2 linked regions of the Homo sapiens genome follow. The protein of the gene in region 2 purifies or fractionates together with the protein of the main gene of each other region. This does not show direct contact. Each region holds a gene or a part of one and is shown on either strand. Other genes may lie near its edges.

Region 1 (3,225 bases), on a different chromosome or scaffold from region 2:
CACACGTATGTTTATTGCAGCACTGTTCGCAATAGCAAAGACTTGGAACCAACCCAAATGTCCAACAATGATAGACTGGATTAAGAAAATGTGGCACATATACACCATGGAATACTATGCAGCCATAAAAATGATGAGTTCATGTCCTTTGTAGGGACATGGATGAAGCTGGAAACCATCATTCTCAGCAAACTATCGCAAGGACAAAAAAACCAAACACCACATTTTCTCACTCATAGGTGGGAATTGAACAATGAGAACGCATGGACACAGGAAGGGGAATACCACACTCGGGGAACTGTTGTGGGGTGGGGGGAGGGGGGAGGGATAGCATTAGGAGATATACCTAATGCTAAATGATGAGTTAATGGGTGCAGCACACCAACATGGCACATGTATACATATGTAACAAACCTGCACGTTGTGCACATGTACCCTAAAACTTAAAGTATAATAATAATAAAAAAAAGAGAGAGCATTAAGAAAATGAAAAAGCAAGCTGCGATTTGGATAAATATATTTGAAAAACATAATTTATAATGGATTAGTATCCAGAACATGTAAGGAATCAATAAGAAGACAACCCAATAAAAATTGGACAAAAGAAAACAGAGATTTCATAGAAAAAGAAACAGGAATGGACAAAGAAATGTAATTTATGCCTACTATGTGATATTTTATAATCATCTGGTTGGTAAAAATTAAAAAGCTAGACAATTTCAAAAAAAGAAAAAGACAGACTGGGCTTTAAAGATCAGTAGGGAAAGGATTGATTCTTTAATAAAAGGTGCTGGGCTATTTACTCATTATGAAAAAAATTATATCCGTACATAACATAAAATAAAGTCATACTGTAAGAAAAGGACAAAATAACTTCATAAAGCAGTAGAGGGAAAATGTCCTTATGACTTTAGGAGAGCTAAGAACCTCTTAAAACACAAAAAGCATTATCATAAAAGATGGATAAATTCAATGACATTGAAATTAAGAACTTCTGTTCAGCAAAAGACCCAATAGAATAAAAAAAAAAACAGGATAAAACTGTATGTAGACAAACGATTAGTACAGGGAATATATAAATCAATTTGACATCCAATACAGCAGTGTGCAAAGACTCGAATAGGCATTTTACCGAGAGAAAATATTAGTGGCTTCTAAATATATGAAAAGATGCTCAAGCTCATTAATAATCAGAAATGCAAATTAAGGCCACAAGGAAATAATACTCAAATCTCCTGTATTTGCAATACCTAAAAGATAATACCAAGCACAGAAGAGGATGGGGAGCATTGGGGTGACTCATCTATTGATAGTAGAGACATAAACTAATATAAGCACTTTGGAAATGTTTAGTGCTTCTCAAAAAAGTTGAACATGTATATACTCTATGATCCAGCAATTCCATTCTATGTCAATACTCTTAAACAGTGGTTCTCAAATTTTACTGTGCATCAGAGTCACCTGGAGGGTTTGCGAAACACAGATTGCTGGGCTCCTCCCACATAGTTTTGAATTCAGTAAGTCTGGGTAGGGGGCTTGAGAATTTGCATTTCAAAGAAGTTCCAAGGGATGCTGATGCTGCTGGTCTGGGAACCACTCTTCAAGAGCCATTGCTGTAAAAGAAACTTTTGCACTTACATATCAGGACATATACAAGAATATTAATAATGTAGTGCTTTGGTAGTAAAAAAAGAAAAACTGGAAACCCAAATATCCTTTAACAACAGGATGAATAAATTATGGTATAATCATACAATGAGATTTATATAGCTGTGAAGACAAATGAGATCATGGAGAGGTATGCAAGGGCTTCCAAGTTATCAATGATGTTCTAGTTTTTAAGGCAGGTGGATATTTTATGGGTATTCTAGTTATTCCTGAAACCGTATGTACAAATTTTGCATACTTACTTGTTTGTACGCACTGCTTCTCTGTGGCTACCACCTACTGGCCATTTTTCTACTCTCTAGCCCTACACAGAACATGTCAACTCATCTCAGAATTTGAGTAAAAGGGGAACAGTATTTGGGTCCCACATCTCTACTGCCTCAAATGTTTACACATACTACTACCCCCATCTTCCCTAGTTGCTTTCAGCCAATTCTCAAGTTATTTTTATACCCCACAAGCTCCTAATCACTCTTCTATGACTCTAGGCCTCAAAATGACACCCAAAACTAATTTAAGACTCCATATGTGGTATAACAGACAGTACTTCTAATAAAAACTGTCTCTTGCTACCATAGGTTTTTTTGGTGCAGTCCATGAAGAGTGTTCTTGCAAACTATATCAGACTGGTTACTCATACTGACTTTAGCTTATCTACTAAGATTCTTAGTAATATTCATATATGATGTTGAAGCTATACCTGAGAATGTAAGCCTTTTTGGACCAAAAGAATGGACTGAAAATTTTATCTTATTAGACTCAGCCTTTATGACTTCTTAGATAGAGACAGATAGATAGATAGATAGATAGACAGATAGATAGATAAAACTTCTCTCATCAATGCATTTCTACCATCCATTCTCTGAGGAGGCCTCTGCACTCTTTATAAATTTAATGAGTCATCAATGATATTCAAGGCACTGATCAAAAACTGAACAGGACTGGACCAAGAACAAAGATCTGAGCCATTTCACTAGAAGACTTCTCAATTCATCTGTATACATTAATGTATTACAGCCATTCAGTTGTTGTTGCTGTTTGAGACGGAGTCTCGCTCTGTCGCCCATGCTGGAGTGCAGTGGCATGATATCGGCTCACTGCAACCTCCACTTCCCAGGTTCAAGCAATTCTCTGCCTCAGCCTCCCCAGTAGCTGTGATTACAGGTGCCTGCCACCACGCCCAGCTAATTTTTGTATTTTTAGTAGAGACGGAGTTTCACCATCTTGGCCAGGCTGATCTTGAACTCCTGACCTCGTGATCCACCCGCCTTGGACTCCCAAAGTGGTGGGATTACAGGCTGAGCCACCGTGCCAGGCCAATTCAATTGGTTATTAATCCTCACTCACATTTCTCCATTTTACCACAAGGATATTAAGATAAACTGTTATAAAACATGTCACTAGACTCTAAAGAAACTGAGGATTTATCTAACTCTCTCTGGTCCTTCAGCCTAGTAACACTATTAGAACAGTATTGCTCTGTCATCTTGGACCATAGTGAAGACCACCCCTAGGGAATGACAGAATGGGAAAATGGAAGAAAGCTGGTCTCTAGCA
Region 2 (3,500 bases):
TCCAATGTGTGTCTTCAGGGCCAAGGTATAGACAGCCCCTGAATCAAGGGCTTCAATAGTTGCCAGCTCTTCTTGGTTCTCTTCCAGTAGGTCTGCAAGTCTGTGTGGTCAGTGAAAGAAATAAATTCAACAAGTATTGATTGAGCTCCTGTCACATATAATGCAGTATCCTAAGGACGGAGAATTCAGAGGTAAACACATATGGATCAGATCTCTGCCCTTATAGAGATCATGGTCCAGTAGGCAAGAAAGACATTAAACAAATATTTTCATAAATCATTTGTTTCAAGAATTACAAAGGAGAAGCAGAGGGTATTGGAAGCATATATAACTTGCCTCATCTATGTGTAAGAAGTAGAACAATGACTGAGCCAGTACCAGTCATTGGAACCACATTCCCAGAACCCACACTTCTGAGAACCCATGAACATTTGAGGATTTCCAGTTGGCACAAAAATATTTCCAAAACTAACTGAAGAGACAAGATAGCAACGTACACAATGAATTACAAACACTGCAACAGATTTCTGTTTGGTGTTCACAAGTTTTATGGGAAGGTAAGTGCAGGACTGTATAATGACTATGATACGGTAAGACTCATCTTTTGTGTTCAACTTCTCTATTTATTTTTCTTCTGTATTTGTAGTGGTTCTCTGAGCTGTTCCTTTGGGGCCACTCTAGAGTCCAGCTTGAAATCCCCCTCCGACAATCTTTGTTCCAGATCTTGCTTGTATTAGTTCATTCTCATGCTGCTAATAAAGACATACCTGAGACTGGGTAATTTATAAAGGAAAGAGGCAAGAGCATGTGCAGGGGAACTGCCCTTTATAAAACCATCAAATCTCATGAGACTTATATACTTTCATGAGAACAGCACAGGAAAGACTTGCCCCCATGATTCAGTGACCTCCCACTGGGTCCCTCCCATGACACATGGGAATTATGGGAGCTACAATTCAAGATGAGATTTGGGTGGGGACACAGCCAAATCATATCATTGCTCTAGGAGATCTATTGATCTAGGTCCGATATTGGATTTTAGGTAAACAGCAAATGGAATTTATGATTGAATCTAATCACTCCTGGCATCCTTCATTACTGATTTATAATATTCTTCCCAGTCCTTATTATTTTTCTTCCTTGTTCCTATTCCTTACACATCAAGTGGATATAAAATGTTTTTTTAAAACAACAGGGTACTGGATATTCTCCACTTGCCGCTCTCTGTATCCATTCTCCACCCTGCTCTGTGACCTTGACCCTGGTGAATGACCTTTATAGATTACATCACCTGGCTCCCTTGCTCTCCCATTGGGCTTGGCCAGTGAGAGACCACTGGGAGGCACCCGCAGAATATTGGTGAACTGAAGGAAAAAGTGGCTGGGGAGTTGGATTCCCTGGCTCCCTCGCTGATAGGCTGTGGTTCAGAAGCTGCCATGTCCCTCCACTGCAGTGTGGTTTTCTCGTATAGCTACAGATCTTGCCAGATTCCAGTAACAGCTCCTTCCCCTGTCCCTTCAGACCTTGACATAGCAGCTTCCCCCTGCTGCTAGCCCTGCCTGGATGTTTCAGTATCCTTTATTGGATTTCTTTGACCTCGGCCACGTCTTTGTGAACAGTTCTTTATTAAACTTCTTTTCCAGCTGGGACCTGCCTGATGCAAGCAATACTAACATAATCAACATATATAGGATTTAATATGAGTCAAGTAACAGAAGACATATTTCATATTAGGTGAATACTAGAATGTTTTGCAGGAATTTTTAAAATCTTGGCAATGTTAGCCAATATCCAAAGGTAGTAGACTCACTTTGTTTTGCTTCTTTTTTTTCCTTTTTTTTTTTGAGACAGAGTCTTGCTTTCTAGCACAGGCTGGAGTGCAGTGGTGCACTCTCGGCTCACTACACCCTCCACCTCCTAGGTTCAAGCAATTCTTCTGCCTCAGCTTCCTGAGTTGCTGGGACTACAGGCACGTGCCACCACTCACGCCTGTAATCCCAGCACTTTGGGAGGCTGAGGCAGGTGAATCACCTGAGGTCAGGAATTTGAGACCAGCCTGGCCAACGTAGTGAACCCCTGTCTCTACCAGAGTTACTTTTCTAAAAAATAAAAAAATAAAAAATAGAAATACCTATACATCAATCTTCCTCTTTCTCTTGCATTCATTCTTCCCCATTCACCGTTTTCAAAAGCATCTTTTGCTGCTGCTACTGCTTTATCAACATCCGCCAAAGAAGCGTAGGATACTTTGCATATTGTCTATTTCAAGGTAAGTAAAAATAGGCCCCATGAGAGATATGAAAATATGGTTCTTGGAATTAATATTGTATTAATAGAAAAAATAGAGTATTACTGATTTTAAAAAAAGTTATGATAAGAAATGAGTATATCTAGTACTACAGTAAAGAAAAAGAACAATTTTAATATGAAAATTGTGAACCAGAAATTTAGTACTTCTCATATCATACTACTTTATGGAAGAACACATTTAGGAAGATTGGAAGACTGTAGTTCTTCCAGTGCTTTAGGAAAGCTGAATTTCTTGCCATGAGTCTTCAAAGTCTGGAAAGTTTTTTCACATATATCTCTATGCAGATGAGTGCCTCTGGTGTGTATAGGTAAAGCTACCTGTCTAAATTTATCATAAATGTTCTATAAAATAGGTTACTACAGTTAATAGCAGCTGGTACCAGAATTGAGTCATTGAAAGAAAAGCATGAAGTACATTTGTGTGAAGTACTTAGAGGCAGAGTGAGAGAATAAAAGGGCTTCTTAAGACTGCCTCTTTTACAATGGTGTATTAACTAAAAATCCATGACCAGTGATCACTACTCACACTAAAGAATTACTCACAGATCCATCTGTTGGGTTGATAGTGTCGTAAGTCTTTCCATCGTCTGCATCTGTGAACTGTCCATTTATGAAACACTGGTATGGCATTTTTACCATGATTTCATTGACCTCCTTTGAAATCTGAGAGAAGTATATTAATAGATTCAATGGATTTCCGTGTTTACCAATTTGATGTCAAACAGCAATAAAGAAGCATATTCACGAATGCAGAGGGAGAAGTCAATGACATTCTAGTTCCGACTGTACAGAAGACATGCATATGTGAGATTTGGGCCTCAAGATGCTTGCCTTGGCCACTGGGGCAGGAGGGTAGAAGCTGTGAAGACAGAAGTGCTCTAGGCCAGGCTTTATACAGATTTCAGATTTTCTTTCTTAACAGATAAAAGGTAACTCACAAGACCTCTAGATAATGGAAACACCACCATCTAGTGGCAGCATTGGTGGAGCGCAGCTGTTGCCTTCATTGAAATCATTGAAAATGCCTTTGTCAATAGGTTTCCTTTTACACTGGTGCCATTTTAAGTTTGCTTTCCTTAAGTTCCTCTCTGTTTTCACTTTTTGTCTGTTACACATGTGTTGCGTAAATTGTACTCTCTGCCAGTGGCTGGCAAGCAAATTGAGGTTAGTCAATGAACTTTGATGAGGCT

Evidence for each region. The genes of interacting proteins can lie anywhere in the genome.
Region 1: the proteins of ALDH1L2 (region 2) and TTC5 purify together in Homo sapiens (affinity purification with mass spectrometry, with the first as the bait; one large-scale study listed by BioGRID). This does not show direct contact.

What each region holds. Positions count from the first base shown.
Region 1 is NC_000014.9:20,285,727-20,288,951, forward strand, and holds the end of TTC5 (tetratricopeptide repeat protein 5), read right to left. Parts: 3' UTR 501-3,225; downstream 1-500. UniProt on the Homo sapiens protein: Cofactor involved in the regulation of various cellular mechanisms such as actin regulation, autophagy, chromatin regulation and DNA repair.
Region 2 is NC_000012.12:105,049,959-105,053,458, forward strand, and holds part of ALDH1L2 (mitochondrial 10-formyltetrahydrofolate dehydrogenase precursor), read right to left. Parts: intron 2,974-3,500; coding exon 2,854-2,973; intron 2,260-2,853; coding exon 2,132-2,259; intron 753-2,131; coding exon of another isoform or gene 734-752; exon of another isoform or gene 531-733; intron 101-530; coding exon 1-100. UniProt on the Homo sapiens protein: Mitochondrial 10-formyltetrahydrofolate dehydrogenase that catalyzes the NADP(+)-dependent conversion of 10-formyltetrahydrofolate to tetrahydrofolate and carbon dioxide.